Regions from separate parts of the Homo sapiens genome. Here all the other regions are linked to region 1. Evidence: fine-mapped expression QTL. A gene starts in region 1. Each other region holds a variant in brackets. All regions are shown on one strand. Distances are from middle to middle.

What was found.
Region 2: its variant is fine-mapped to the expression of VPS41 in whole blood (TOPMed, PIP above 0.99).
Region 3: its variant is fine-mapped to the expression of VPS41 in whole blood (TOPMed, PIP above 0.99).
Region 4: its variant is fine-mapped to the expression of VPS41 in blood mononuclear cells (TOPMed, PIP 0.90).
Region 5: its variant is fine-mapped to the expression of VPS41 in whole blood (TOPMed, PIP 0.98).

The regions. Positions count from the first base shown.
Region 1 is chr7:38,906,542-38,911,541 of GRCh38, forward strand. It overlaps VPS41 (VPS41 subunit of HOPS complex), which reads right to left and starts at 2,650. Exons shown (of 29, transcript NM_014396.4): 1 at 2,613-2,650. The coding sequence starts at 2,633. RefSeq lists an enhancer at 2,658-2,757.
Region 2 is chr7:38,740,400-38,746,963 of GRCh38, forward strand. It overlaps VPS41 (VPS41 subunit of HOPS complex), which reads right to left. Exons shown (of 29, transcript NM_014396.4): 23 at 5,160-5,214; 24 at 3,003-3,143; 25 at 1,586-1,722. Among named protein-coding and RNA genes, the nearest start is that of AMPH, 110 kb to the left of the region's middle. The variant C/T (reference allele first, on the strand shown) is at 3,803.
Region 3 is chr7:38,705,036-38,711,599 of GRCh38, forward strand. No RefSeq gene overlaps it. Among named protein-coding and RNA genes, the nearest start is that of AMPH, 77 kb to the left of the region's middle. The variant T/C (reference allele first, on the strand shown) is at 3,361.
Region 4 is chr7:38,727,047-38,733,610 of GRCh38, forward strand. VPS41 (VPS41 subunit of HOPS complex) reads right to left here. Exons shown (of 29, transcript NM_014396.4): 26 at 1,646-1,745; 27 at 1,496-1,540. Among named protein-coding and RNA genes, the nearest start is that of AMPH, 99 kb to the left of the region's middle. The variant T/C (reference allele first, on the strand shown) is at 2,451.
Region 5 is chr7:38,853,230-38,859,793 of GRCh38, forward strand. All of the region lies in intron 4 of VPS41 (VPS41 subunit of HOPS complex), which reads right to left. Among named protein-coding and RNA genes, the nearest start is that of VPS41, 53 kb to the right of the region's middle. The variant T/A (reference allele first, on the strand shown) is at 2,723.

The sequences.
Region 1 (5,000 bases):
TTGCCCAGGCTCGTCTCGAACTCCTGGGCTCAAACAATCGCCCCACCTTGGCCTCCCAAAGTGCTGGGATTACAGGTATGGGCCATTGTGCCTGGTCCACGACTAGTCTTTTTAAGATACTGACACCACTGGAGAGGAGAATGCCCACTCCAACTACATATTGGCTGTTAAAGCATCAAAGTGGAATGGTGGCTTGAGGGAAAATCATTAAAATGGAAAGGGCTAATTCTACTTCATAAAGTAAAAAAACTATTTAGATTTAGGTTCTTACATATATTTTAAAAAGGTAGGGTATTCTAGTGAAAAGTCATGAGCTATGGAGACAGAGGACTGGAGATTTATTATATTATAGATATAAGCCTGAGCACGTTACTCAAGTTGCCTGAATTTCAATTTGTTTATCAGTAAAAGTCAATCATTTAACACAAATTTATTAAGTAACAAGCAATATTCTAGGTATTGGACATACAGCAGTGAACAAATCCTTGTCAGGATGTTCCAAGCTCTGTGGTAAGAGGTACACAGAAATATACAGGGAAAAAAAAAAAAACAAATTTTATAATACAGTATGTCAAACGGTGATGCACATTATAGGGAAAAATAATGCAGGAAGGTTTCAAAGCATGGTCAGGGAAGGTCGCAATGAAAAAGAACACTTGGACAAAGACATGAAGGAAATGAGGAAGCCTGTAAATATCAGGGTTCCTCAAAAAGGAACAGCATGAGCAAAGAGGCCCTGAGATAGGAACCTGCCTGGCTTTTTGAAGACTAAGAGAGCCAGTACAGCTGATGCAGAGTCACAGAAGGGAAGGAGAGTAGTGGGAAAAATGAGGTCAAGAAAAGGTGGCTAAGGGCAGCTGGGTCAAGGTCCTGTGGGACAACCAGGCTACCGTAATGGCTGTGGCTTTTCCTCTGAATAAGATTAGAAGCCCCTGGAAAGTCTAGAATATCAGAGGTGTTTCACCCATGTATGAGAGTAAACATTTACCTCATAGAATTCTTTTGGGAAGACCAAATGCAATATGGAAGGGTTTTTAAAACTAGAAAATAATGTACAAATGTGAAACATTATTATATCCCTAATTTTGTATGTGTCATTTTTATATCAGACAACTTTGTTAAATTCTTCTTCTGCACTAAACAGTGGTAAATATTTCATAGGTTTTTTTCAATGGAAGAAAAAACAATGGTTTTTCTAGGAGCAACTCTCTCCATTTCTATTCCACTATATCTAAGAACATATGAAACTCAGTTTTTTGCTTTCAAATCAAACCATAAAACAAACATTTCAACATGAAATAAAGATGCACAATGTGAAAAACAATCTCACCCTTATTCAAAGGAGCAATGGCAGTCATGAAATGATATGTTCTTAATGAGTGTTTTCCTTTGAACTGCTAGAATGGAAATAGGAGTCTCTAGTGTTAGATAAGAGACTTTGTTATCTTGTTATCACAAGGACCAGCCAAACCAAATTTCTACCTAGTCAAACGTCTCAATTATTGGCATATATAAAATATATACAGAACAAATTTTCACTATGAAGTAAAAACAAATGAAGTATGTTGAAAATAGTAAAAATTATTGAACTAGGTAAATGACTCTTATGATACTAAACAGCCCATCATCAAGTCACTGTTTAGAGACAATGACTGCAACTGACAGCCCTGTTAACTTGTGAAGAAAAACAGTATCCAACTGAAATAACACTGGAAATGGAAACTTAAGTTATCTCCCCCAAGTTCTAGCCTCTTTTTTGGTCTGCTTCTCTTTTTTGTCTTTTTTATTTTACTTCGTCATTTCATAAAATGTGTGATTACCACTACTGCTATATGAAAATAATTCATATTCCCATCACCAATTTCTACCCTAAACTTCAGTGCCACGTTGCCAGTTGTTGACTGGATACTACCAGCAACAAATAATCCCATTTAATTTTTACTAAGCCCAACAGTTCTAAGTACTCTAACTTTGTGTATAAACTCCTCTCTCCATCTTAAACCACCCTCTGAGGACGGCCTTATTATTACCCCCATCTCACACTGGAAAGTTAAATAAGTAGCTCAAAGTAGCACATTGGGTAAGAAAAGGAACCAGCACTTGGACCCCAGGCATTTTTGCTCCAGAACGGATGCATTTAATCCCTGCTGCACCGCAACAGTGCTCCAGCTCTGTACCTAACTCCAATAGATACAAAACAAAACTCATCGTCTACTCTCTCCTAGTTCTTATTGTCCTACTTCAAGTGGAAAGCAACTTAAATTTCAGTCACCCGGCCTCTCTTCCTCCTCCCACAGGCAGTCAGTCCCTGAGGTAGCCGGGCCTGCCTTCATGCCAAAATTTCCCTGGGCAAAGGCCACAGGGATGGGGCCCGAGGAAAGGCAGCCCGAACGCGGGGGTGTGTCAGAGCGCTTTCCCTAGGTGCCCTCCCGGGGCTGGCATCCTCTCTGCTCCCCGAAACCAACTTTCGCCATCCCACCCCGCCCTGCCGCGGACCTGCCTTGCGCTATTCCAGCAGCTCCGCACCTCCACCCACTCCACTCCACCCTCCCCAAACAGCCCACCCTAGTCTCTATATCCCTGTGCCCTCAACTACCACCTGCACCCTTTACCTGCTCCTCTGCTTCCGCCATGGCGCCACGGGAGAGTCACCTGACAGACCCGGAAATAAGAGGAAACCACACACTTGGCCCAGGGCCTTCTGGGAAATGTAGTTTTAGCTTCATCTGAGCCTGGAAATCTCTTCTAGGGGACGGACCTGCTAGGGTTCATTTCTGCTGCCAATTCTCCAAACTCAATGGAATTCTGCTTTGAAGGATGTGAACATAACCATTGCTAATACTATAGCTTATTTTATTGTTGTTCTTGTTTCTCTAGTTATTCTAGTGTTTATTAAGCACTTACTATGTCATGCCCTGGGTTTATAGCTTTGCATAAATTATCTCATTTAATCCTCACAGCAATTCCTACTATCATCCCCATTTATAGGGGAGAATACCGTAGCTCAGAGGTCATGCAGCTAGTAAGAGGCAGAACTAGTAATAGAATTCAGCCCTGCCTGATGCCAAAGTCTCTGTGATTGCCAAATGCTGCTTACTCTAAAAGTGTTCTTGTCCTTTTTTCTCTCTCTTTTTTAAGTATATTCAGTGAATATAAAGCAGTCTTTGCAGTGGAGAGTCAGAGAAAATTTATACGCCAACAAATAATATCATTATTTTTGCTTGCTACTTTGTCTTCTCCTGTCATATGAACATTGATTTAAAAAAAATCTCTGTTGTTTAATAAATTAATTGTTAAACTTTTGTTGAGGATATTCAATAGGTAAATGTTCAAGTGAAGACACAATATGAAGTTGTCCTTGGTCAAAATCTGCACAACCACTGTATTACTTCCAGCCTTCAGAATGACTGATTCCTTCTCCATGTTTCTGAACATTATGAATTCTGTTTCTTAACCCTCAGGAATCTGCAGCACCTTGTCCAAAGACAGACATTTTACAATTTCCATTCACTGGAGTAGCTGGTGACCAGCAGAGGGCATTGCAAATGGCAGCATGTGGTGATTGCCTCAGTACCTTTTTTGACTCCCTGTGCCTCATTGACTCTGACCCAGTAGGAAGTCATGGACTCAGTACTCTGTCTGTAGCTTGCTCAACCCATGATTCCTCAATGGCCCAGAAGCCAAGGTGACATCATCTCTGAGACACCTGTCTTCTCCCCAGGGCCTAAACAGCCTTACCTCCATCTTCTTCCTCCAAGCCTTGCTGGGGTTCCTCTTCCAGTGGGCTAATCACTCAGCCGACAGGATAGACCACCCTGAGGCATTTAAATGTCTATAAGCAGCCAGGTGCAGTGGCTTTCACCTGTAATCCCAGCACTTTGGGAGGCCAAGGCAGTCAGATTTCATGAGCTCAAGAGTTTGAGACCATCCTGGACAACATGGCAAAACCCTGTCTCTACAAAAAATACCAAAAATTAGCCGGGCATAATGGTGTGCGCCTGTAGTTCCAGCTACTCAGGAGGCTGAGGTGGGGGTTAAGGCTGCAGTGAGCATTGATGGTGCCACTGCACTCCAGCCTGGGCAACAGAGTGAGACCCTATCTGAAAAAAAAGAAAAAAGAAAAAAGAAATCCATAAGCAAGCACCCAATGCCCTAAGTATAAACCTAGGGCAAGTATAAACCTAACCCAAGAGTTTCTAAAATCTCTTGCAAAGCAGCCCAGGGCCAAACATTGCTCATGATGAACTCCAGATCCCAGAAAAACTTTAATACAGACCAAAGAGACTGTGGAAGCCCTCAGTCGAGTATCCACGGGAAAGAGAAATAAAATGAGCTCTTCCACTTTTCTGACTTTCCTCACAAACTCCAATTTTCTCTTTTCTGTTATGAGTGACAGCCACCCATAAACCTCTAGGACTACAGCCTCTCCAACTGGGCAATCTCCTCTTCTATGCTGAATGGATGAGATTGGGATGAAGAAGGAAAATAAGGGATTATTACCACTGTCTTAACCACAAGGTCATTTTTGTTTTATGGTTCCATTTTATTTTGGTGAGAAGTCAAGCAGCCCAAGCAAGCAAAGCTGAAGGCCATCCACTCTGGGCCTTCCTGGCCTTTCTACTTTTCTGGAATGAGAATGTTTATTCTCTTTCTCAAGAAGGGTGTTATGGGTCTTATTAAAGATATAGCCAGACTTTATAGGTTTTCCTCTGCTCATTTAACCGTAGAAACTCTCAATTCCCCAAGTTTGTTCCGCATTCAGTATACTCTCTTGATTACAATAAAGTATTATGAGCCTCTTTCCTTTTGGAGAGACTGGAAAAGTGAAGAGACACAGGTATGGAAAGGTGAATTAGAGGAAGAAACCTACTATGAACTAGCAGGTTCGTGCTGGGACAGTGGACAGGATGAAATTCACATGTGACCTCCAAATCCCATTTGCTCATGTGAAGTGAGAGTTTGAGGCTCTCTTATCTAGGTGGTCTTGTATTCTCCAACTA
Region 2 (6,564 bases), 170 kb before region 1:
GGACGTCACCTTTCTGGATTCCTAGGGCGTGGCATGAAAAGCCAGCTCCTCACCTCACCTCTCTTTGCCTATTAACCCATTCCCATATTTTTATTTCCTTCTTGACTTTCTCATTCTCCTTCCAATAACCTTTCTCCTGGGTCATCTGCAAACCTCCAAATCCCACTGGAAATATATGCCTATATATCGTTAAGCTTTTTGCGGAACAGGTAATCTACTTCTTTGGCTTAACGAATACCAATTTCTCTCCCATGAACCCAATTTCCCACAAAGCTCTCCGGAGTGAAGGCTGCATGATCTCTCACACCCCCACCCCCATCTTTAGACTTCTTCACTTTTAAAGTCGTGTTGTCCAGTTAATACTACTGTCCCCTGTGGAGAAGCTGGAGCCTGGCTTAGAGCACCTTGTTTCTTCCTCCTGGCCTTCATGTCCATTAGGATGACTCAGAAAGGCTGTGGCCTCAGTTTCTCTACTAATTCTACACAAATGACCTTTACCATCATCCCACTTTTTGAACACGTATACACCATGACTCCGCTTCAGAAACATTAATGACATCACACTCTCTGGCACAACCTCTTGTCCCTGCAGCTCTGCCATCCCTTTCATCTCTTACATCTGTTTTTGATGCCACCAATGTTCCTGCAATATCTTCTCCTTTCCACCCTGCCTCTTACCTAAGGCTGTCACCCTGAGTGCAGGCAGACCTCTACTTTGCAACCTGCATGGTGAATCCTGGCCCAATGGATCTCACATCATAATGCTCCTCAGCTAATAGCCTTTTCTTTTGGCTTTACCTGCAAAAATTGTTTCTAGGAAAGTAATTTCATCCATTATTAATAAAACCTCATTTTCAAGTAAATTAGAGGAAGAACAACAGTCCGAATTTTTAAGGAAATGTTTTAATTCAAGTTCTATAGAAGTTACCAGCATCCTGAAAAATAGTAATTGCTAGAGTCTTTTTAAGGAAAAGATTAAGATGCTTTGTAATTAGTATAATAATTTATATGAAAATAATGAGTTCCACTGTTCTTATGACAAATTCTGATTTAACAAGGATAATAAAGTTGCACTATTCTAGAAAACAGACAAAAGGTTAAATAAAATCCTATATTTTAACAGCTTTCAGGCAACAGACTACTGAATGGCTTCAAGAAAAATTATTACCTTACTGAAAAACATTTTTGTTAATTCCCTCAAACGGATACAATACTTATTCTCCCTAAAAATGTTGGGGTGGCCCGATCTAATGGCCACTATAACTGCTTTCATACTCGCCTCGATTCCATGTTATATTAACCATACAAATGTAAGAATGTCTGCTCAAAAACAAGTGAAAATTGGAGATGGCTAAAGAATCAAATAGCCTTCTTAAGGCCTTTAAGGTATTACTGGACAACGCAATTTTAAAGGTGATGTTTCTAATTACTCTATTTGAACAGTTTTCTAAATATCTGGGCCTAAATAAAATGTAACCATAAAATCGAAAGTTTTTAACTGATACCTAACATAAACCCTAGAAATATTTATCCAGTACTAAGTCAACTAATTCAGATGCTCATTTGTCCAAGAAAGGATACTTACTTGCAAATTGTAGTCTTGCAGAATTTTAACCAAGGAATCTCTCAAATTGGGGATCTCCATTCCTTCCTTAATACGGTGAATCAGTAGAATTGGGTCAACATGTGTGCCAATGTTGTTTAACAAGCCAGTAATAAATGCTACAAAATACCACATAAAACAATGAACATATAAGCAACATTATAATGCAATTTTATTTGCACATAATTTGCATATAATGCAATTTTAGATCAAAAGTAACTCAAAGAAAAAATTATTTCCTTCAAAGTAAGTGTTAAAACCATTTGAATTTCTAAACTCTTAAGAATTAATCTTCTAAACTTCCAAGAACTAACGCTCCTTAAGACATGAAGGAGAAAGTAAATAAGAACTGTTTTAAAACAGTTGAACAAATGATTACTTGCCTTCAAAATACAGTTTTTAGCATCAAATGGGTGTAAATAATATTTATTGACAACTGACTATGGCTCAGGTATCATATACACTTTCCTCAAATACTGTGCAAGGTAGGAATGCTGTGTCCCCATTTTACAGACAAGGGAAATGGGGTGTTTAATTTTTCCAGGGTCACACGGCTAATAAGTAATGTGCCCAAATTCACTCAGGCCAGCCTCAAGTTTATGATATGTTCTGCCACATCACTTTGCCTCTTGAGATCCTTAAACTACTACTTTATCTTGCTAGTTACAAGTGAGATTCTTTATATTGTCAAGAGGATAGTTATTAAAGTCAATTTCAGATTAAGGTAGTTACATGAACACAAAGACTTCCTACCAAACTTAAAAAAAAAAAAAAGGAAAGAGGAAATTTCAAATCACTACTGCTAGTTATTTTCAAAAGAGTTGGGTTTCTGTTAGGTGACTGCTTTTGTTTTTTCCTTTCCAAAATGGGAGACCCAATGCAAACAGTCAAGCTGAGGACCAACAAATACAAACTCTGGGTGTTGTACTGATAAAAATAGTGCAGGAAAGAGGCTAAATACTACAACACAAACATCCAAATATCATCAATGTCCAGAACAGTTACATGTTTCCAAAAAAGACTGGTAAGGTCTATACACTTAAACTATAAACACTCCCATATACAAGCTAAAAACAAAAAAAAACCACACCAACACAACCCAGATGACATTTATTCAATTTGCTTGCAGCAGGTAAAAATATGCCTCATGGGGACACAATTAATAAACTGTGTAGCCACCTGTTCTTCATCACATGCAGGTAATGCAAAGTGATGAGGCTCCAGGTTTTCCAGCACAGGAGGAGTATTGGAAATCATTACAACACACCTGGCCTATTTTTATTGTAGGTACGCTACCATTTTCTTAACCCAATGTATCTTGAAATAGTTTTTAATCTAGACATAACTGGTTACACTGAGAGAAAAAAAAGTTATAACCAGAGATGGCTTTTATGCTTACGTGGTTTGTCAATGGAATATAAAATCAAATCTTCCCACAGCTCTCCATCATCTTGCTCCTTGGCAAATTCGATTGCTTTATCAACATCATGTAATTCCTCCATAATCATCTTCAGGGCACTTCGGCTATTACCCATTCGGCCTTGGTGGGGTGAAGATGGGAGAAAGAGTTCATTTAAGGTATTTTAATAATTTTTTTAAAGAAATTGCATATCTCTTAATTTGTTTACATAGGTGGAAAGCTAAGACAAGGCTATTTTCTCATGTGACACCAACATTTACTGTCTATAACATAGCAAAATAAGTATCTCCTATTTACTGGATATTTACTCTGTACTGAGTACTCATTTAAGTGCCTCATATAAATGACATCATATAACCATCACTACAACCCTATGAGGCATGTTCTACTAATATTCCTCTTTTATAGAAGAGGAAATAGAAATGTTAGTAGCTTGCTAAGATCATACAGCTACTAAATAGTACACTGTGAATTTGAAGCCAGGTCTGTCATACTCTGACTTACTTTTGATAGACTTATATATATTCTGGAGGTCAATACCTTCACATGCAGATACACTTAAAATGTTTAAAGGCCCTAAAGTCATTCTGCCTCATGAGGTAGCTGTGCATACTGCTTTTCTGATACACTTTGTGCCAACTGCAAACTCAACTATCAGAGGGCTTCCTCATTTTCTTCTCTCCCACGTTCAGGGGAAGGCCTTTCAATAACCCTCATGAGATGAAAGTATTTATCAACCATGCCTTCTATTGGCTAATTGTCTTTACATACTTTGCTCA[C/T]TGACCTATGGCATTTTAATAGTTTAAAGTTTTCCATGAGTTTTTAATATAGTGCATGTAAGAAAGCCTTACTCAGTGGAGGGACAACAACTGCCTGGTTGTAGGTTGTCACCCTTACCCCTGTCTCTGGGCTTGCAGGAACTAGTAAAGGATCTTGAATCCTTCCCCCTGCACACGGCCATTATCAACTGATAAAAGCTGGCTTGTGAATGAAATGATATCCCATTTGATACCCCTTCCACAGCATTTTGTGTTTCTTACAAATATTATTTCCACAGTTTATGTCTCTAAAAATGGTTAGTTATTTAAAAATGTTTACAGGATTATCAAGTTTTTATAAAATCAGACTATATGTCCCTAATAAGTCCTCTACTGCTTCTAAGACAATATGACAAAAATTTATTCCACCAAAATATTTCTTGGGGAGAACACTGTTTGGAATTAGTGAATTGATGAGCTACCTAAAATTGTGATTAGAACCCCAGGAACATGCTGAAGTAACAAAATGCAGCCCCAAAAGCACTTCTCCTAAGAAGGGCAGGTGCTATAACTGGACAGTTCTGGGTTTGTGGCTGAGCACCCATGAATCTGCATACACATAAAAGGGAATAGAGGATTTGGATTATTTTTCAACAGAGGCAAAGAGGCCAATGAGAGTGAGTGCTGTATAAGGGAAAGGCGTAAAGCGGAAAAACCCTACTGAGGTCAGCAGGGAAGTGACAATGGAGAAACACCAAATATGAATGTTATGTTATATGCTACATTATGCAATCCTCAGTACAACCCACATTGTTGTCATGCACGTGGCTCATTTTGGAAGAATGTGAAAAGATGACAAGTTTTGTTTCTTGGTATGCATGGTACAAAAATTGTGACTCATGTGGAGGTAGGAGCCAGAAGACCAGGAACACTGACACCTAGATTATATTAAAAAGCTCTCCTCCTTCTCCAAAACTATGGTATTCAATTGCATTTCCTCTAGTTATTTAGGGTGTGATTTCTAAAAGTGATTATTTATTTTCTACCAATATGATGGTAATATAAGCTGATTATAATTTTTTAGAAAATGAAAAAACTTGTCAACTCATCTACAACTTAATCTATGTTGTGAGGTATAAACTGATAAATTTTGATATGTTGATTATACATTGCCAATATGTTATTTCAACATTTATGAAACAACTCTTCCTTCTTTACTGTGCTGTGAAGTCTGTTTCATATATTAAATTATTGTAAAAATAGGCTCATATTCTGTGTTACGTTGGTCTAAAACCTATGTCCTTTCTTACACAATTTACTTCATGTTGTCATCCCATTTCTTAGTTTATGGGGACCAAAATGAATAAAAGCTACTTACTCAGAAGATAAACTGTCTCTTCTACAAAGTTTCTCTGTTGACAGATCTCAAGAGCCTTCAATTAAAGCAGGGTAAAAATGTTACTATAGGCGACCAAATAAGAACAAACAGTAATAAAGTCATTTAAACTTACACTTGAAAGAATTTTTCCACAGCTTCTTTAAAAATAAAACAAAGCAAACAAATAAAGAACACATCTCCCTAGAATAGCTGCACTCAGTTACCTCTCAGAGGTACTGGACTCTACACAATTCAATTTAAAACATATTTGAAGCTACTCAGAACATTTCATGAGCAAGAGTAGAAAACAAGACACCAAATGAAAAGAAAGGGCCTTTCCCACTAAGCTTTCTCTCTTTACACTACTTCAGGTTTCCTTACAGCACTGCTTCCTTCCAAATCTGTAGTCATTTGTTTAAGCTCTGTTTCCCTCCATTAAGATGTAAGGAATGTTGCTCATGGTTGAACTTTTCCTAGTATTGTGCATACCATAAGCTCAGGAAATATGAATTCATGCTGCATGAATGAACGAATGAATGATTGAATTTACTAGGAATATTTGTACTGCCAGATCACAGGGGCTGAAAGAGAACTCTGCTCAAGGATCTGTCAAAGGTGAGAAGGAAAAAACACTTTTGATGATCAAGAAGGATCCAAAAAGGAGCAACTATGCAGATGAGAGCATTTCCATTAGTCTTAAAAAAAAAAAAAAGACCTACTATATATTGATAAATTACTTACTAATTCTAAATTAATCAGGATACATTTACTATATTCTCTGTGCTGGGTGCTAGAGGGTCAGGTTAGATAGAGATGCAAAGATGACAATAATAAAAATGTTAGTGATGATTATAGGTAAGAGGAAAACAAAGAAGAGAATAATGGAGGAGGCTTAGTAGGAGCATTAGCAGCATGAGTCCACCCCCGGGAGCTCAGGGTCCAGGAAGTGACAGAGATGTGACAACGCATTATTCCACGATTAGAGTAACATGAACAAAGGGCCATGTGTACAGAGGAGGGACACTGAAACTGTGTGGTCCTCTTGTGAGAAGCTTCAAGGGGAAGTGGCATCTGAACCGGGTGCAGTATGATGAATGAGTGCACCTGGGAAACCTTATCTCATACCCTGCCTACAAAACTTTCTATTGCATCGCTCCACTCAGACTTAAAGCTGAGAATCTCTACCACGACTTACAAGGCATCCACAACCTAGCCCTTAATTTCTGTGCAGCTTCACCTGCCTCTGCTCACCTCTCCATTGCGTCCCCTTGCCTGAAATGCTTCCCTTACCCTGACTCTCCACTATTGGATGGCACTACCTTACGTCATGAGGTCAAGGTCACCCAAGGTGGACGAACAAGAGGAAGGAGCCCCGGTCTCTGACCCCGCGGCATGGTGCTCTCAG
Region 3 (6,564 bases), 200 kb before region 1:
GATTTGTGAACAAAACTGTGGAACTCCCTGGAATTGTCATGAATTCCTCAAATCACAAGCTATTCTGTCATTTTCAAAACATTTTATTTACCTGTTTTTGAATAATAATGAGTAAGCATAATAATATAGGTAAATTATTTTTTCTGGGATGGGTTATACACTAAATATTTTAATTTTCTGCTAAAAACAGATATAATAATAAACAGCTTTAAAAATTGGACCAATATATTGTGACAAGATTATATATTTCAATAACATGTAAAAATGTTCTCTATCTGATAATAAAACATTATAAGCTGAGAATATTAACATGCAACAAATCGCTGTTAAAATCACTTAAAATTTTTAAAATACTGGCTGGGCACAGTGGCTCATAATCCCAGTACTTTGGGAGGCTGAGGCGGCTGGATTACCTGAGGTCAGGAGTTTGAAACCACCCTGGCAAACACGGTGAAACCCGTCTCTACTAAAAAAATACAAAAATTAGCCAGGCATGGTGGCACACACCTGTAATCCCAGCTACTCAGGAGGCTGAGGCAGGAGAATCGCTTGAACCTGGGAGGTGGAGATTGCAGTGAGCCGAGATCATGCCACTGCACTCCAACCTGAGCAACAGAGTAAGACTCCGTATCCCCACCAAAAAAAAATTTTTAAATACCATATTTAATATTTAAAAGTTATTAATTCTTAAAATGGAAATGTTAAATATACCAAACACCAATTGTCCTACTTAATAGCCTCAGTTTTTTTTTTCATGACAAACATTCCAAATGTAGAAAAAATTTCTTTCATTTCACATTGACATTGGTTAATTAAGACTGCACCAAACAGCATCTTGAAGTTGGATATTAGGGCAGTTGCTGCTTCATTTAAGTTTAATCTTTTTTAATCCAACGAAAGGATTTTTTTCATTGCAATGAAAATATTTTGTTTACTTGCCCTGATTTTGGTTTTGTTATTGAAATTTATAATTTATATTGCTTTGCTAATTCAGATTTTTTATCCATTTCTAATTTCCCAATGAAGCATTCCAAAACAATATTCATAGCTTCTTTTCTTCGCATTTCTTCTGTTAAAGTATTTATAAACAACTATAGCTTACAGCAAATGTTCAAACACTGGAAAACATCAGGAAATACAAGTGAGTAGTATTCAAATAACCTAACATTTGGATCTCCTAGCAAGGTTAACACTACTAGACAGAATCAAGTTTCAAAATTGCCAATTTAAAGACTTATTCTACATTCATAATGTATTATTTCTTGGAATCCCCCTCATAAGGTTTATGTAAAGTGAACCATAGGTATACATTTCTTAATATTTATTATGATTTGCAAGAATCCTTGCTTGCAGCAGATAGGACCATAGTACACTCTTGGAACACAGCAACTGCTACGAGCCAGACTGTTGGATTAGATGAGGATGACGTCCCTCCTCCACACTCCCATTCCCATTTCCCAAAATGTTGACCTTAACCTTTGACTCTCTTGTAGGGGTTTCCTGCTCTTAATGTCAATGGATTCCCTTGAAACAGTAATGATCTCTTTGTTGATTATTAAGCTTCAATCATCACAGAATTATAATACTTTTTTCCATTGTCTCAATTTCTTCACTGATTTTTCTCAAGATTTGCAAAAACCAATTTTGCAGTCAATCCTGAGAAAGAATTACTTCATGGGTACACTAAATCCAAGTGTAAAGTCACAAAGAACTAAGCTAGAGCAGCAGTAGTGGGTTACAGAGGAGGGGTGGATTGGGGTGTTCTTCTGAAAGTAGAGACAAGAGCCTGTAGTATCTCCTAAGGGATGTGAAGAGTGAGAGACAGAGGAGATTGTTCTAGAATGACTAAAAAAAAAAAAGATTTCTGGCTGGGTGTGGTGGCTCACACCTGTAATCCAGCACTTTGGGAGGCCGAGACGGGTGGATCACTTGAGGCCAGGAGTTTGAGACCAGCCTGGCCAACATGGCAAAACCCTGTCTCTTTTAAAAATACAAAAATTAGTTGGGAGTGGTGGTGTATGCCTGTAATCCCAGCTACTTGGGAGGCTGAGGCATAAGAATCACTTTAGCCTGGGAGACGGAGGTTGCAGTAAGCCAAGACAGTGGCACTGCACTCCAGCCTGGGTGACAGGGCGAGACTCTGTCTCTAAATAAATAAATAAATAAACAATTTCTGTACAGACAGGCCTGTCTATCGTAGGCAGTGCTAAAGGGAAATGTGATTAATTCATGTTCAGGTTTTCTATTGGCTAGGTAACCAACCATCCAAAAACTTAGTGTCTTTCATTAGGAAAATGCAAATCAAAACCACAGTGAAATACCAAATGATACCCATTAGGATTGCTATTTATAAAACAAAACAAAAAACAACCAAAAACACCCTCAGACAATAACAAGTGTTGGCAAGGATGTGGAGCAATTGGAACACTTATGCATTGCTGTGAGAATGTAAAATGGTGCAGGCAATTCCTCAAAAATTTCAAAGTAGAATTACTATAGGATGCAGTAATTCTGCTCTGGGATATACCCAAAAGAATCTAAAGCAGAGTCTTGAACAGATATTTATACACTAATGTTCACAGCAGCATTATTTATAACAGCCTAAAGATGGAAGCAACCATCAATAAATGAATGGTAAGCCAGTCACAAAAGGACAAATATTGTATGATTCCACGTACATGAGATACCTGGAGTAATCAAATTCACAGAAAGTAGAATGGTGGTTGCCAGGGACTGGAGAGAGGAGGGAATGGGGAGTTAGTGTTTAATGAGTACAGTTTCTCAATTTAGGATGAGGAAAGGGGTCGAGATGGATGGTGGTGATAATTGCACAACAGTGCAAATGAACTCAAGGCGACAGAATTGTACACTTAAAAAATAGTTTTGCCCACGATGATCCTGAGTGATGAGCAGGAATTTAACGATGCTGCTTCTGTTCCCAGTATAGAGTCTTCCCAGAGTGACAGCAGGAATGCCAAGCATGGGTCTTGTCCAGGTCTGTCCTGCTCTGGCTATGCAAGGTGGGCGAGCCACTTCCCCACTCTGGCCTTAGTTTCCTCTTCTGGTGAACAAAGGGAGAAGAGTGGAGGGTTCCCCAGGTTCCCTCAGCACTCATTTTTTCTGCTTTTCCATGGGACAGGCTACTATGAGGCTCCTGACTCACCTGGATTTGAACCCCAGACCTGCCGGCTCCCTGCTGGTGATTTTGGGAGTCACTCTCATGTGTGGTGGTTGATGCTGGCTGTCTGCTAGGGTCTTTGCTGGGGCTGTCATCTGCTCCACCTATGCAGAGCCTCCTTGGATGCAGGACCTGGGCTGTCTTAGAGCTTGAGCATCCTGGTAGAACAAGATGGAAGTGCA[T/C]GATGCTTTTATGACCTAGCCTTGGTCACCTCTGCCATGTTCCAGTGGTCAAGGCAGTTATATTGTAAGAAAAACATGTGGGATATATTCTAGTAGGCCATTTACAAGTCATTCTTTTCTCTTCTATTTTCTTTATCCATGAAGGGCTTGAAGAAGTCAGAGAGAATCTGAGTCTTTCCCAGATCATAAGTTATCACAAGTGTAACACTGGAGACCATTCCTATTTTGTATGTATTTCAGTGTGCCTGTTTTATTTAAACAGCTGCTGCTGGTGGTAACACGTACATAAGACTGAAACACAGCAAAAGGACAAAGCAGCTTAGAATTTCCACAGTTGGAACAGACAGAAGACATTTGACACATCCACATCGTTCCATATGCTGAGACCCAAGACCTGCTGTCAGTAATCTCAAAATCATTGCAAAATGCTCTCTCATCCTACACCCATATCTGTGATCAGGATTCTGGAATGGACATTTTCTCCTCCCTCTTTTATTTTTATCTAACCATTTTTATAGATCTTCAGTAAATTTCTTTCAGGAAAATAAGATCACTGTTAAAATCATGATTTTGGCTGGCTGATGAAATTTTCCAGATTATCTTCTTTAAAAGACTACAGAAACATGATTTTACTTTCTCTTTTCATTTAGCTTAAAATTAAAAGTCAATTTTTTAAAATCATTGATCCTAACTACTTTTCCAGCATCCTAACACTGGTCACAAGATGCACAGATTGAGAAAATAAAATCACGCCTTCCAAAAGAAAGCCAGCCAAGTTTTGCCGCCTTCTTTAAAAAAGTACATCACCCACGAGCCTGATGAGATGGCAAATGCACAGCTTGAGTTGGTTCTAAGAAAAATGCCTCAGAAGATTCATTCTAAAAGTGTACTCTGACCTTACTAAGCAAGACTACAAAGTCACAGTGATACCTAACGACATCAAAATAGTAGCTGATATGAATATCTTCCTTTGATGTAATTAAGAAATACACCAACCAGTGACACTCAACACAGAGTTCTTTCCAGGTTAGGGTGAACTTGGAATTAAACTGTTGTTAGAAGAACTGTCAAGACAGTTTCATTTCTTACTCAAGTAAAACACTGAGGGAACAACTACAAATTAGAAGATACAAAGCCGTAAGGAATATTTGCTTCCAAGGAGAGAGTCAAAGAGATACAATCTCCTTACTAAAAGAAGGAAACTGATAACTGCAACTATAAACTATAACTGCTGATGATCCTTTTAACACTTCTTATACATTTTTTTAGTCATTCAAGTAATGTATAAATATATTCTTATAAAAAAGTATTAGTTGAGCCCAGAGGTTCAAGACCAGCATGGGCATCATGATGAGACTTTGTCTCTACAAAAACTTAAAAAATTAGCCAGGTGTGGTTGCACACACCTATAGTCCCAGCTACTTGAGAGGCTGAGGTGGGAGGATCACTTGAGCCCAGGAGGCTGAAGTTGCAGTGAACCACGATTGTACCACTGCACGATCACCCTGGGCTACAGAGTGAGACCCTGACTTATAAACAAACAAACAAACAGACAAACAAAGTATAAAGCCAAAGAAAACCTCTCTTTCCCGGTTCTTCCATCAATGCTCACCCCACTCCAGGTAACTTACTGCTGTTATTTCTATGCATTGTACACACATACCTATGCATTTACTTGATTGTATACATACCTAAAGAACATGATTGCTTTGTTTTATTGTCCATAAGTGGAACCAGCTTGCTTCCTTACACTTTACAATGTCTTGGTCCATTTTAGTACTTGCTAGAATTTCATAGCATGAATCATAGTTTATGTGGGCCTTACTGACTGATATTTACAATATCATTGGTCATGGTTTTTTGTTTTTGTTTTTTGAGATGGCGTCTAGCTCCGTCACCCAGGCTGGAGTGCAGTGACACGATCACGTCTCACTGCTGCCTCAACCTCCTGGGCTCAAGTGATCCTCCCATCTCAGCCTCCTGAGTAGCTGGGACTACAGTTGCATGTCACCATTCCTGGCTATTTTTTTTTTTTAATGTTTGTAGAGATAGGGTCTGTGTTGTCCAGGCTGGTCTTGAACTCCTGGGTTCAAGTGATCCACCTGCCTCAGCCTCTCAAGGTGCTGGGATTACAGGTGTGAGCCACTGTGCCCGGCTGTCATGCTTTTTGTGTACAAGTGTGAGAACTTCTCTAGGATACATAGTTACAAGTTGAATTACTGGAATGAGGCTATCTATATTTTTAATTTTAATTAATGTTGTCAAGTTACCTTCCAAAAAAAAAAAAAACTGTGATCAATTTACACCTCCAACCTACAGTATAGAAATGTATCTGTTCCCTGTCCCCCTGCCAACAGCCTGGCAGATTTTATTACTTTTCCCTAAGTATTAGTGAGGTTGAGCTTTTTCTATCTCTTGTTTTGCCATTTGTTTTTGCTGTACAGTGAATCGCTTCTTCCTATCTTTTGCCGATTTCTTACTTGGGTTATTTGACCCTTCTTTTCATTTTAAAAATTGATCCTAGTTGCTCAAGATATTTAGAGGAATTTCTAAAATTCTGGAAGGCAGGAAATCATATCTTCATCCTTTTGTATTCCTTTGGACTTACAACTGTGCTAACTTATTTTTGTAACATTTACAAAATTAAAGATGGGTTTTGCTTAAGCCACAACTACATACAAGATTGCAAAGTGGCAAATACACACAAAATAGGCATAGTAACTACACTAAAAGTTGATGTCTTGGAAAGGACTAGTCTAGCAATGTGTAGAAATATCTGGTCAGGGAATAAAAAAGATTTGGATACATTTTTATTAAGAAATTGGCATATCCTTTTTCATTAGAAATTCAAGCAGGAACAAGAAAAAAAAAACTGAAAGAATCTGTGTTCAAGGACAGACTCACAGATTGATTTGCACCATCAGGAAGCTCCTGGGTGAATGGACTTGAGCCCACTGGAAGGGTTTTAATTCTTGGTTGTCAAGACAACTGTATTCCAACAGACTGTGTCAGCAGAATTCTTCAACAATCCTCACCTTCCCGCTGCTTACAAAGGTCTGTTAATGTCTCCTTACTCAATAGACCAAGCTTTTGCATTGCCGTCTGATTAGGAGGCGAGAAACAGGACTCTGCTCTGAGAACAACCCCTCCATCTCCCAGAGTCACCTTCCTGCACTCCTGATGTGCCTCACTCAGCCTCCCTTC
Region 4 (6,564 bases), 180 kb before region 1:
ACCAATCCCGACTGAAAGTCGAGTTGCAGTTTAATTTTCAGCAATAAGGTGCCTTTAGAGAATGGCTTATTTACAAAAGCATTCCTGAGGGGTGGTATGATCAGACACAAAACAGGTATTATAATCATGTTGCTATGCGATTCACAGGTTACTTGCTTAGCCTCTGTGTCACTTACCCAGACTACATTGAGGACAACTGTAGGAAAACCAGCAAGTGTATGTGCCAATGCGCCCCTAACCCCTATAATCATTATACACCACAGCTGAAGTTGAGTCTGTGGCTTCATAAAAATGCTTTGCCAGTCCACCTGCTACCTTTGCCAAGACCACACACTGACTCAGAGGCGGACCTGGGTTACAAGCCCAGGCTGTGGTGACCTTGCATTTTACTGCACTTGTGCTTGGGCAGATCCCCTCATCTGTTCCTGCTCTGTGTGGCCAGCTTATTTTTGGTAAGATTTAGTGTCATCAGCAGAGTAAATTTGGAGTTAAATCTAACTGTAGAGTGGGAATGTATGTGGTTCCTTTTTGCTGCAACACTGTCTGAAATGCTATGGAAGCTCACTTCTTCACCTGAGCCCATGCAGTTTTCAACAGAAGCACTTAAACATCCAAATCTAATTCCTCTAGAAAAGAACCTAAGTAGAACAACTTCTCATGGACTGCCCCATGAAATAATCCTTTAATCCTAAGTAAACATGAGGTCAACTAGGTCTTTTAGTACTTTGTTATGCTGAACTTATATTTGAAAAGCATTTGTTAGCATCCTAACAATGCTTTGTTAGTTTCCGCTTTTGAATTATGCAAATTTCTTCTGTCATAATAAACCTTAAGAAGGTGCTTTTCATTACAGATGAAGACATATATCTATCTGCCAAGAACTAGAAATAAACAAATGCTTATGTCTTTTAAAGACTCACAGTTCCAATTAGATGGCAGGGATTATGTATGTTTCCACTGAAATGTGAGATGACTTGGGCATGTAGAACCATATATCAGAGAAAAACACTAAAGAAAAGGGAATGCTACCTATAAATTTTTTTTCCCAGACATGTATATGGTTCTTCTACCTTGAAATTTAAATGCTGATGGTTAGTTTTCATTTTGTTTTTACCCTAGACTAGCAGTTCTAAAAGAAGGGCCCCTGAACCAGTGGCATCAACATTACCTGGGAACTTGTTAGAAATATACATTCTCAGTTCCTGCCCTGGAAGTTTGGAACCAGAGACTCTAGGGAGTCTGACTGGGTCAGCGATCTGGGTTCCAATAAGCCTGCCAGGTGACGATGACTCACCCTAGAGCTTGAGAACCTCAGCTCTAAGCAATGGCAGCACCAGCATTCCACTGAGCAGGATGGAAGCCACAACACTTCTCTCCACTGGGTTATTCTGAAAGTTATATAGTTTTATAAACGGTAGTTGGCTAATTCCAAAATTTTGATTCCACTCATCATTAAAATACATGTTTGGGATTTTTTTGGGGAAAACCTTCTTACCTGATGGAAGAATAGGGGAAAGGCACGACTCACAGATGTTCTCCTCTGTAAGAAAACACACATACTTTGGATTATGCCCTGTTTATACCTGCTTGGCCATTTCTGAAAGCAGGGCACGTGGTTCCATATGATTATTTCAATTTTACCCACCATCAACAAGAACACCTTTCATTTGAGTTCGGTGCATTTTCTTCAGTAAGGACAAAGAGTCAGCTACGAGAATCTTCTTGCAGCCTTCACGAAGCAGAATCTAATGCATACATTTTAAAAGAAAAGCCATCTTAAGTAGACTCAAATCTGAGGGGTGAAGGGACACTGTACTGGGGATTCCAAAAGCTGGCATGCTTGAAATACTCAAAAGGGGCACTCACTGATTCTCTTGCCCTCAGTACCCTCTTCCTGCCAAACCACTGCCAGGCTGACCTGGCCAGCCAGGATCCACTCATTACTCTGTGCGTCATTTCATCATTTCTTCCAACCATACACGGGCTCCTGTAGCATTTGTATAATCAAACATAAATTCCAAAGTCTGGCAAAGAAGGCCCTATATTAACTAACCCTATTGCTACTTTAGAGGGCTTCCTTATACAGATCCTCTTGGGCAGACTTTGGCTCCTACATCATGTGTTCATTCCATTCTTCAGATCTTTACCCAGAATGAAAACCTGCTATTCCAAAATCATCAATTTATTTCATAAATTAATCTATTTACTGCACAAATAAGTACTGGGTCCCTATCACGTATAGGGTACTGGGTATAGATAATAAACTAAACAGATACAATCTCTGTCTTAAATCCCCTTGAGGATGCAACCTATCTTTTTCTTTCCAAATCTAATCCAAACCATTCAGCATAGTGCTATGAATGTGGTGTGTGTGTGTGTGTGGTATTAACTGACTATAATAACCTTCAAATTTGGTGACTCCTGGGAGGGGTTTGAAAAATGACCATGAA[T/C]ACAAATATTCTCTCATAAGAGTCCTTTTCTTTATTCTTCATCCCAGCATTATAGCTTTTGTTTCTTTACACATTTTTCTTATTCCCCTGCAGGCTTTTTACTATTTCCTCCCTTCCTGCCTGGAGAATGACAAGAGACATCACAATGCTTTGGCAGCCTCAGAAGTCAGAAGCACACAGTGGAGGATGATGCCCATTTCTGGCTGGTACCAATGTTGTATTTCAGAACTGGAGGCACGATGGGGTCCAAGATCCTCCCCTGCTTTTAGGTGGGGACACAGCAGGGACAGGCGACACTTTACCTTTCATGTCCATTCTGTGGGGCACAGTGTGAGCTCCCACCCTTTGCTGGGTTTTCTTAGGTATTAGTAGGAAACTGAGAGGCTCCAGGAGGTGTGCATAAGCCAGATGTCATTTCATTTATTATTATTATTTTTTTTTAACCAGAACTTGTTGCTGCTTTTTCAGAGGGAGAAACTCAAGGCCTGAAGGACAGAGACGCTCTGGGGCTGTGCCTGTGGCTTCTCCCTTTGGGCCCTATGTGTCTTATCATACGCAGTTATGTGCAGTTACACATGTCACATCATAGAAGTTCACATTAACAGACAGCGCTGTCTCACCACAGCCCAGCTCTGAGGCTGAGAAGCATGTGTCTTTCACGGGCAAGTGCCACTGTTTAGAGGGGGCACTTTGGCTTTCTTCATACTGAAGTCACTCTCGACTTGACAAGCTAGATGGGCATTTTGCTTTCATAAGTTTTAAATTCATGCCACTGGGGAAGAAAAGTAAGGGAGCAGCCAACTGCAGCCCTCTATCCTCAGTGGTCCACGTGTTCCTCTGAAAATCCCAAAGAGCACTGGCTTTGGGTGAATCCAGCCGAAAGCCTTTTTCCCCTAATTATACAAAGACAAATTAATATTCAGGAAAACAAAACTAATGTCTAGATTAAAGTTCTATGCCTGCCATTTCTAGTATTGATGAACAGGAAATTACATGATTTTAGTATTCCTACATTAATTGAGAAACTGCCTATGAAGTTTTATTCTTTAAAATTCTACCAGGAATCAATTTTTTTTGGATTTTTAAAAAAATACATTAAAATTTTAACAGACTGCATTAAAACATACAGGTAGAAGAGAAAAATAACAAATACAGTAAGAAAGATAGCTAAGAAATATGGATGTCAGGAAACTTTAAATAAATTTAAAAGCAAACATATAAAGCTGCTTAGCCTCCAAGACAAAAATAAAAAACTTAAGAGTAATGGTTTCAACCACAACATCTCAGATAAAACAATTTTAAAAAATGGCTCTGACTCTCGTGGGTGCTCCAGGCCCATGGCATGAATTATATAAGAGAAAGGCAGGGCCAGCAGTCTAGACAGAGGCCACTGTGTCTACAAGCTAAAAAAGAAAACAGCAAAATATGCAAACCAGGAAGGAGCCATATCCTCAGCAGGATTACATTTTTCTAAACAGGTACAATCTGTCCGCCTGCAGATAGCATTTTCTAGGAAAATTCATTATTCAGAGGCAAACAGCCAGGAGAGGGGAAAGTACACAAATACAGCTTACTGCTATCTCCTACTTCATTTGGTCAAAATTCAAGGCTCCCAATCAGAAAAACAGGAAAACATTTTAAGTTTCATTTATATGATCCCAGGCAGGTATTTCAAAATATGAGACTATCCTCTATAGAATGTAATCATTTATTCTATAACATCTGTAATAATGTGTAGGCAATTAAAGGTGATAAGTGAAGGAAGACAGTACAAGATTATAATGTACTACAATCTACAGGTATTGCTTTCAACATCAGACATAGGACAAGGCATTATGTTGACTATGGATTCCTAGTAGCAACTCCATCAGTGACTCATGAAAAATGTGCTGTTGTTCACATTCATTTCACCCTCAAAAATTCATACTTGCAATTTCCCATGAGTGTCTTTTTTATAAAGACACTGATGGCCAAAAGTCAGATGCCACAGCAGTTGGCGTAAGCAGGTCATCCTCACCTCTTTTTGACCTTCACACTCATGATTTTGGATGACTGCTATGTTTCAAGGTCATCTTACCCAGCCTATCTTCGCAACCACAGACTATCATCACCTTCCCCATCTCCCTTCTAACTTGCAAATGTGATGTTCTTTACATACTTAGGGCACATGCACACTCTTCTGTTACTCAGGTTTCGATGACCAGAATGGCACTGAGCACTGCTGCTCTTGATCTGAGCACTATCTTTCATTATTTTGTGCTATTTTTCTTTTTAAAATATGAAATATTAAAAAAAAACTGAAAACAAAAAAAGACCCAGTCCCTACCACCTAGATTTAACAAATCTGTTGATATTTTCCCACGTGCTTCAGATCTCATTCCAGAAAATAAAGTATTACAGACACAGCTGACACTTTCTTGCCCTCTACCATTCCTGCTCCTTCTTTTCAAACACAACTCCAACTTCATTTAGTGTGTGTCCAGCTGAAATATACAGCTGGCTGGGGCTCATGTAACATAGATCTGGTCAACAAGATAAACATCAAGCCTGGGAAAGCAGCCCTTTCAAATCAAAAAGCAAAGCCTCATTAGGAAAAAACCCCTTGCTTCCCGCATGTGCCATATGAAGTGTGGATGTAAAGCCTAGTGATACGGCATCTACTTTGTCACCAAGAGGCAACAACCCTGAGGTACACTCTCCTGTTAATGCATGCTGAGGTTATGTCCAGTTTAGGGCTACTAAGGAAATCCAAAGGACATTCTTGTACAGATCTTTTTATGGAACTGATTTTCATCTCTTGAGTAAATACCTAGGAGTGAAATTCCTGGGTCATGGAGTAGGTGTATGTTTAATTTTTCAAGTAAATGACAAACAGTTTTCCAAAGTGGTTATATAGCATTTTATACTCCCACATATTAAGTTGGATATCTAATAAAAATATCTTCCCTCTTGAATAATAATCTTACTCTTAATTTTTATGTTAAGAGTTAGGACCAGTTTATTAATTTCCATGAAAAATTCTTTGGATATTTTGATTAAAATTTTATTGAACATACAGATGATTATTTTAGGGAGAACTAATAACATTTATGATATGGATGTACTTTTAACAATTAAATAAATGGTCAAGTTCAATTTGCTATTGATTTATGTATTATTTTTGCATTTGTGTTTTTAAAAAAAAGATAGGGCTATAATTTTCTCATACTGCCCTCACGTAATGCTGGTATTAGGGTTACACTAGCATTCCATAAGGAACTGAGGAACTTTTCCATTCAATTATCTGGAAAAGTAAATGTAACACAGAAGCTGCTTTTTATTTAGTTTTATTATTTTTAATTAATTTTTTTTGACAAGGTCTTGCTCTGCCACCCAGGCTGAAGTACAGTAGCATGATCAGAACTCACTGCAGCCTTGACCTCCTGCACTTAAGTGATCCTCCTGCCTCAGCCTCCCATGTAGCTGGGACCACAGGCATGAGCCATCACGCCCAGCTAATTTATGTATTTTTAGTACAGACAGGTTTTCACCATGTTGCTCAGGCTTATCTCAAACTGCTGAGCTCAAGCCATCCGTTCACCTCAGCCTCCCAAAGTGACGAGATTACAGGCATGAACCACCGTATCCAGCCAGCTATTTTTTAAAAGGATAAAACTTGTCTCTAAAACTGTCTATGGAATAAGTGCCTTTATTGTAGCTATACATTTTGACTACCAATGTAATTTAGTTAATGATTATAGGTCTATTCTATTTGCTTGAGTAAACTTTTACAACTTATTATTTTCCTAGAAAATTGTACAGTTCTTCTGAGTTTTCGAAGATATTGATATAAACTCGTATTCTTTGTTTATTTCAGGTGTTGAAAACTTAGTCTGCAAGGACTTTGTTTTTTACGGTTATGCTGGTTGTTTCCCCGTGCCTTTTTCTTAAACTTTATGGAATTTGCAAATACATTTTGTGATGTTTCCTGAAGGTTTATAGACTACAGAAGCTTATAAGCATGCAGTTTTGAAGATTATGTCCTCCTTCACACCAAAAGTAGTTTTTGTTTTCCAAAGTATGTCTAACTGGCCTTTCAAAGATCAATCATTTTTAACCCACTAAAAACTTTCTC
Region 5 (6,564 bases), 53 kb before region 1:
TAACACAGTGAAACCCCATCTCTACTAAAAATACAAAAAATTAGCTGGGCATGGTGGCTGGCACCTGTAGTCCCAGCTACTTGGGAGGCTGAGGCAGGAGAACGGCATCAACCTGGGAGGCGGAGCTTGCAGTGAGCTGAGATTGCGCCACTGCACTCCAGCCTGGGCGACAGAGCGAGACTCCTTCTCAAAAAAAAAAAAAAAAAAAAAAAGTATCACTGTCTTAACTCCACTCTAACAACCTGGAAAATACACATTCACCTTTCCAGATTCACCTCAAATTTCACTTTCTACAGGTTCCCTGTCTCCCAACTGCAAAGGTGGAGATTCCTCCCCTAGGTCTACACCTTATTCATAATCCTTTTAAAGCTCTTACTTTGCAATAATGGCCTTGAACCCCAAAGAAAGAACCACCAGAACTGAGAGTACCCTGTACTGAAGAATGAAATCCAAAGGCTTCAGACAACTAAGCCCCAGTCTACTACCCAATTCAGAGTCATGTTCCACAAAGTTAAAATTACTTCAACCCTGACTTTGAAATATGTGAAATACCAGGGTAATTTCATTCAGTGAAGGAATATTTTCAGTTTTAGCTATTTAAGGGATATTTGCCTAAATGTAGTTACCACTGAAGGGTCAGATGTTAAAACATTCAGTAAGTATGACACTTTACTCTAAAAGAGAGAAGCATCCTTAATTCTGACCATGTTTTCTTAGCCACTTTGGTGCGTAGAAGCCATCAAAATTATCAAGTTATCTATAAATACTTAACCCACAAACTTGAGATTATTTTTTAATGCAGACAACTGGAAATATGACTTGCCTTGGCATCATTTATCAGAAGTTAGAATGATTTCCATTTAAGTAATTTTCAATTCCTTTGACACATCTCTTATCACTCAAAATACGGGGTTCAAATATAGAAAACAAGTTCTTTAAACACACAAGAATCTGAGACCTGTCAATCAGTCTTAAACAAGTATTACAGGCACTGGCACACTTGAGCCAACAATGAACCACTTTGATCATATCAAAAAGATACATGCCCTGCTTGCCAATTAATGATGCCACATCTAGAACAGCATACTACAGATGGTATTTGCTTCAGGTCGATAAGTGAGTACCATTAGACCAAGAGTAGAGCAGGGTTCTTTGTTCAAGGATACATAGCTTAAGTTTATAGATCTGCTCCAAAGATTCTTTCAATGAACAGTCACCCAACATCACACTGGCCACATTATGAATAAGCCCAAAAGAGTTAGGCTGTTTAGGTGAATAATGAATGTATGGCATCTGTATTAACTGTCAAAGAGATGGTCATGGCCATACAATTTCCTATAATGTACACACAATAATCCTGATATGGGAGAGGAAGGTATGAAAAAAACCTTGATTATCTGGAAAATAGTCTAAATATGTGAAACTGCAGATTTGGAACTATGGATTAGTTCAGCGAACTTCTATCAATTTCTTATTTCTATCAGTTCACCAGCTTTTATGTTGAGCACTGATGATGCAGAGATAAATTACACAAACTGTCCTCAGGAAATTAGCATTCTATGTGGAAAATGACATTGAGGCATATAATTGTGACAAAAGTACCGTACGTTCAAGAAGTGGAGAAAAAAAAAAAAAGCAAAGTGGAGGTAACACAAAGAAGGAGATGGTTAAGCCATGTAAAGGATAAAAAAAAAAAGTGGGCCAGGCGTGGTGGCTCACACCTGTAATCCCAGCACTTTGGCAGGCCGAGGTGGGCGGATCATGAGGTCAAGAGATCGAGACCATCCTAGCCAACATGATGAAACCCTGTCTCTACTAAAAATATGAAAACTAGCTGGGCATAGTGGCACATGCCTGTAGTCCCAGCTACTTGGGAAGGCTGAAACAGGAGAATCACTTGAACCTGGGCGGCGGAGGTTGCAGTGAGCTGAGATTGCGCCACTGCACTCCAGCCTGCTGACAGAGTGAGACTCCCTCTCAAAAAAAAAAAAAAAAAAAAAAGGTGTTTGTGAATACTAAAAATGAAATTTAAGCAGCTTAAAGGAACACTGAATCTTCACGATGATACTGTCAAAGAGAGAGGAGAGAAGGAAAATGATCATTTCTTTTGCTGAAACATGAAAAAAGAGATGGGTGATCCTCCAGACACTCATACATCAATCCAAAGCAAAGAGAAAAGAGGAGCTGATTTATATTAGAAATAAATTCTTCGCAGCCAAAGAAAGCAACAAAAGGTCAGCAATACAGTCCAAAAGATGGTCGAGTCCCAAAGTCCAGGGAGAAAAATGAAACCATCATCACTCACAGATGAGGAACCAGTCACAAAAACATGTTTTGAAACTCAGGTTAGGGAAGTGCCCTAATAAGAATGTTTCGCTACATAAGGGAGGTCTTGAATGTACAAGGAGATAAGGGTGGAAGAGTAGTGGGCATGGAATACATAACCAGAACAGCTCAAGCCCAATTTACACACTTCCTTCCCTGATACCGTTTGCATCTGGAATGATCTTTTAAAGTCTCTTTAGCTTCTAAACTTTGATGACTTTATACATTACCCATAGCAACTAGAAAATGTATGAGTATATATTAAAAACTTAAATACTGCTGAACATAAGGGTTACTTTCCAAAAGTAAGATTTAAGACTCTGATCTTATATTAGTCAGCTTGAACTGCCATAACAAAATATCATAGAGTGGCTTAAACAACAGAAATTCTCCTAGT[T/A]TTGGAGACTGGAGGTCCTCAATCTGCCAGTATGGTCACATTCTGGTGAGGGTTCTCTTCCTGGTTTGCAGACAGCCTTCCCGCTGTGTCCTTATATGGCCGGCAGGAAGGGGGAGGAAGGGAAGGTCTCTCCTGTCTCTTCTTATGTTGGCACTAATCTCATCTTGAGGACTCCACCCTCATGACCTCATCTAAATTGTTTTTAACTTGTTTTTGTTTTTAAGAGACACAGTCTTGCTCTGTCAACCAGGCTAGAGAGTGCAGTGGTGCAATTATAACTCACTGCAGCCTAGAACTCCTGGGCTCAAGTGACCCTCCTGTCGTAGCCTCCTGAGTTTACACCATGCCTGGCCCTCATCTAAATTTAATTACCCCCCAAGTCCCCAATTCTAAATACCATCACATTGAGGGTTAGGACCTCAACATATGAATTAGGAGGTGGGGAAGAATTCAGTCTACAGTAGCTCTCAGTATAAAATTTCTAATTATACATCCAATGGACAAGTGAAGGTAGAATAATACACAGGAGAACAGAGAACCAGCTCCCAGAGGCCTCCTGAAAGGTAGTAACAGAAAATCACCAGTTCCATGGTTATGTTTCAAAACAATATTATCAGCCAATATATACTTACTGGATACCAAACGGCAGCAGAGAAAAGAGAAAGGGTGGGGAAGAGGAGAGAAGTATACCAGGAGACATGGCAACTATCCTCCAAGACGTTAAATAGGAATGTGAGGCTGGTACTGACACTATGAGGGGCCACACTACAAGTGAAATAGTAGTAATATAGGAGTTTACAGGAAGGAAACACCTCAGGGCTACAATCCAGGGGAAGTACCTTGCAGAAAGAATGGAGATTCACAGAAGTGTATTCTAGAGAGAAAAGAAGTCATCAAAAGCTTAGAAACAGGCAAGCCCATGGCAATATTTAGAAGGTAGTGAGCAGATAAAAATTACTAGAGAGGGAAGAAATTAAAACTAAGATTAGAAAGGTGGGTTTCACCAAATGATCAGGGTCTGGAATGCTTAGCTAGATAGTTAGGACTTGATGTGGGAAGTAACAAAGAACTGTGAAATGTTCTCAGAGACACAATGGTTAGATGGACAGAGGTCTGGGTTTTTATCAGCACATGAACACGAAAGGTATCAGCAACTAAGGAATACAGTCCATTAGTTTAATCTCAAATCAAAAACAGGAATAGAAATACCAATAGATTCTGCTACCTGACAAGGAGAATCATCAACCCACCTCTGCCTCAAGAGTTTAATTTCAAAAATTTGATATTTATCTTAACACAAAATGGCCACTAAGCTCCTGTTTTGTTTTAATCTCCTTTTTTTGTAATCATCCATTTTATAAATATTTATATAATGTCTCTTACTATAGTGCCTTACAGCAAAACCTCATCATTTTCTATTTCTAGCAAAGAAAGAAAAACACATAAAGGTGAACAGTAGAAATTTATGTTTGATCAGCAAGTTGTTTGCTCTCTCACTAGCACACTTAAAGGAATAAATATTTAAAACACATGGCATAATGCTCCTAAATATTTAACAGAGACATGGCACAATAATTTGATCACTGCTTCAACATAAGTACCCTTAATTAACAAGTTTTAAATTAAAATGCTTAAATAAATTGGAGGCTATTAAAGAAAAAGTAACTACAGTCATGCACTACATAACAACATTTTGGTCAACAAGAGACCACATATACCCACTGTTGACTAAAAAGCCAAATTGTAAAATACTCGAAGAGATTTATTCTGAGCCAAATGTAAGGACCATGACCCATGACAAAGCCTCAAGGGGTCCTCAGAACATGTGCCCAAGGTGGTTGGGTTACAGCTTGATTTTATGTTTTAGGGTGACATAAGACATCAATCAATACATGTGAGGTATATATTGGTTTGGTCCAGAAAGGTGGGACAACTCAAAGAGGAGATGAGAGGAAAGAGGGATGGTTTACAGGTCATAGGTAGATTCAAAGATGTTCTGACTGGCAACTGGTTGAAAGAGTTAAGTTATCAGCAGAAAGAATCAGCAGAAAGGAGTACCTGGGTTACGATAAGGAGTTGTGAAGACCAAGGTTCTTACTATGTAGAAGAAGTCTTATAGGTGGCACCCTTAGAGGTAATATACGGCAAACGTTTCCTATTCAGACCTTTAAGCTACTCTCTTCAGGATCAGAAAAAGACCTGGAAAGGGAAGGGGATTCTCTACAGAATGTAAATTTTCCCCAAAAGAGACAGCTTTGCACAGCTATTTCAAAATATGCCAAAGAAATATATATTAGGGCAAAATACTTTGACTTCTTTCAGGGCTTGCTATCTGTCATGTGATGCTATATTAGAGTCAGTTTGGAATCTGGTATCTTATTTCCTTTCACACTACAAAGAGTCTGTTTTGTCAGTCTTAAGATCTGTATCTTAATGTTAATGCCGGTCAGTTGTGCCTGAATTCCAAAAAGAAGAGAATATAATGAGGCATGTCTGACTCCCCCTTCCCGTCATGGCCTGAACTAGTTTTTCACGAATCCTAAGAGGAGTCCATTCAGTAGACTGAGGAGCTTAGAACTTTATTTTTGGTTTACACCATAGACTACAGTGGTCCTATAAGACTGTAATGCTTTACAAGCTATCTTTTCCTAAACATTTAAATAAAAAAAGATTATAATGGAGCTGGAAAATTCCTAACACTCTGTGTCACTGCAGCCTAGTAACAGCACAGCACAACATGTTACTCACGTGTCTGTGATGATGCTAGTGTAAACAAACCTAGTCAGCTGCCACTCATATAAAGTCTAGCACACACAATTATGTACTACATAATACGTGATAATGACAATAAATGACTATGTTGCTGGCTTATGTATTTACTATACTATATTTCTTATTGGTATTTAGAATATATTCCTCCTACTTATAAAAAAAGAAGTTACCCATAAAACAGCCTCAGGCAGGTCCTTCTGGAGGTATCAAGAAGAAGGCATTGTTATCACAGGAGATGACAGCTCCATGTGCGTTACTACCCCTGAAGGCCTTCCAGCAGGACAAAATGTGGAGGTGGAAGACAGTGATATTGATGATCCTGGCCCTGGGTAGGCCTAGGCTAATGTGTGTGTTTGTATCTTCATTTTTAACAAAAAGTTTTAGAAGTAAAAAAGAAAAAAAAAACTAAACAGAAAAGAGCTTATAGAATAAATACATAAAGAAATATTTTGTACATCTGTACAATGTGCTTGCTTTAAGGTGTGCTATTATAAAGTCAAAAGTTTTAAAATTAAAAAGTTTATAAAGTAAAAAAGTTACAGTAAGCTAAGGCTAATGTATTAGTGGAGAAAGAAAATGTTTAAATAAATTGAGTTTAGCCTAAGTGTACAGGGTTTATAATGTCTACAGTAGTGTACACTACTGTCCTAAGCCTTCACATTCACTCACTGCTCATTCACTGACCCACCCAGAACAACTTCCAGTCCTGTAAGTTCCATTCATGATAAGTCTCCTGTACAGATGTATCATTTGTCATCTTTTATACCATATTTTTATGGTATCATTTCTATATTTAGGTATGTTTAAATGCACAAATACTTGCCATTGTGTTCCAATTGCCTATGGTATTCAGGACAATAATATGCTGTACAGGTTTGTAGTCTAGAAGCAACAGGCTATACCATACAGCCTAAGTGTACAGTAGGCTGTACCACCTAGGTCTGTGTAAGTAGAGGCTATGATGTCTGCACAATGACAAAATTGCCTAACGCCACATTTCTCAGAATGCATCCCACTGTTAAACGACGCATGATTATACTATGATTAATGTGGTTATATGGGCATAAATA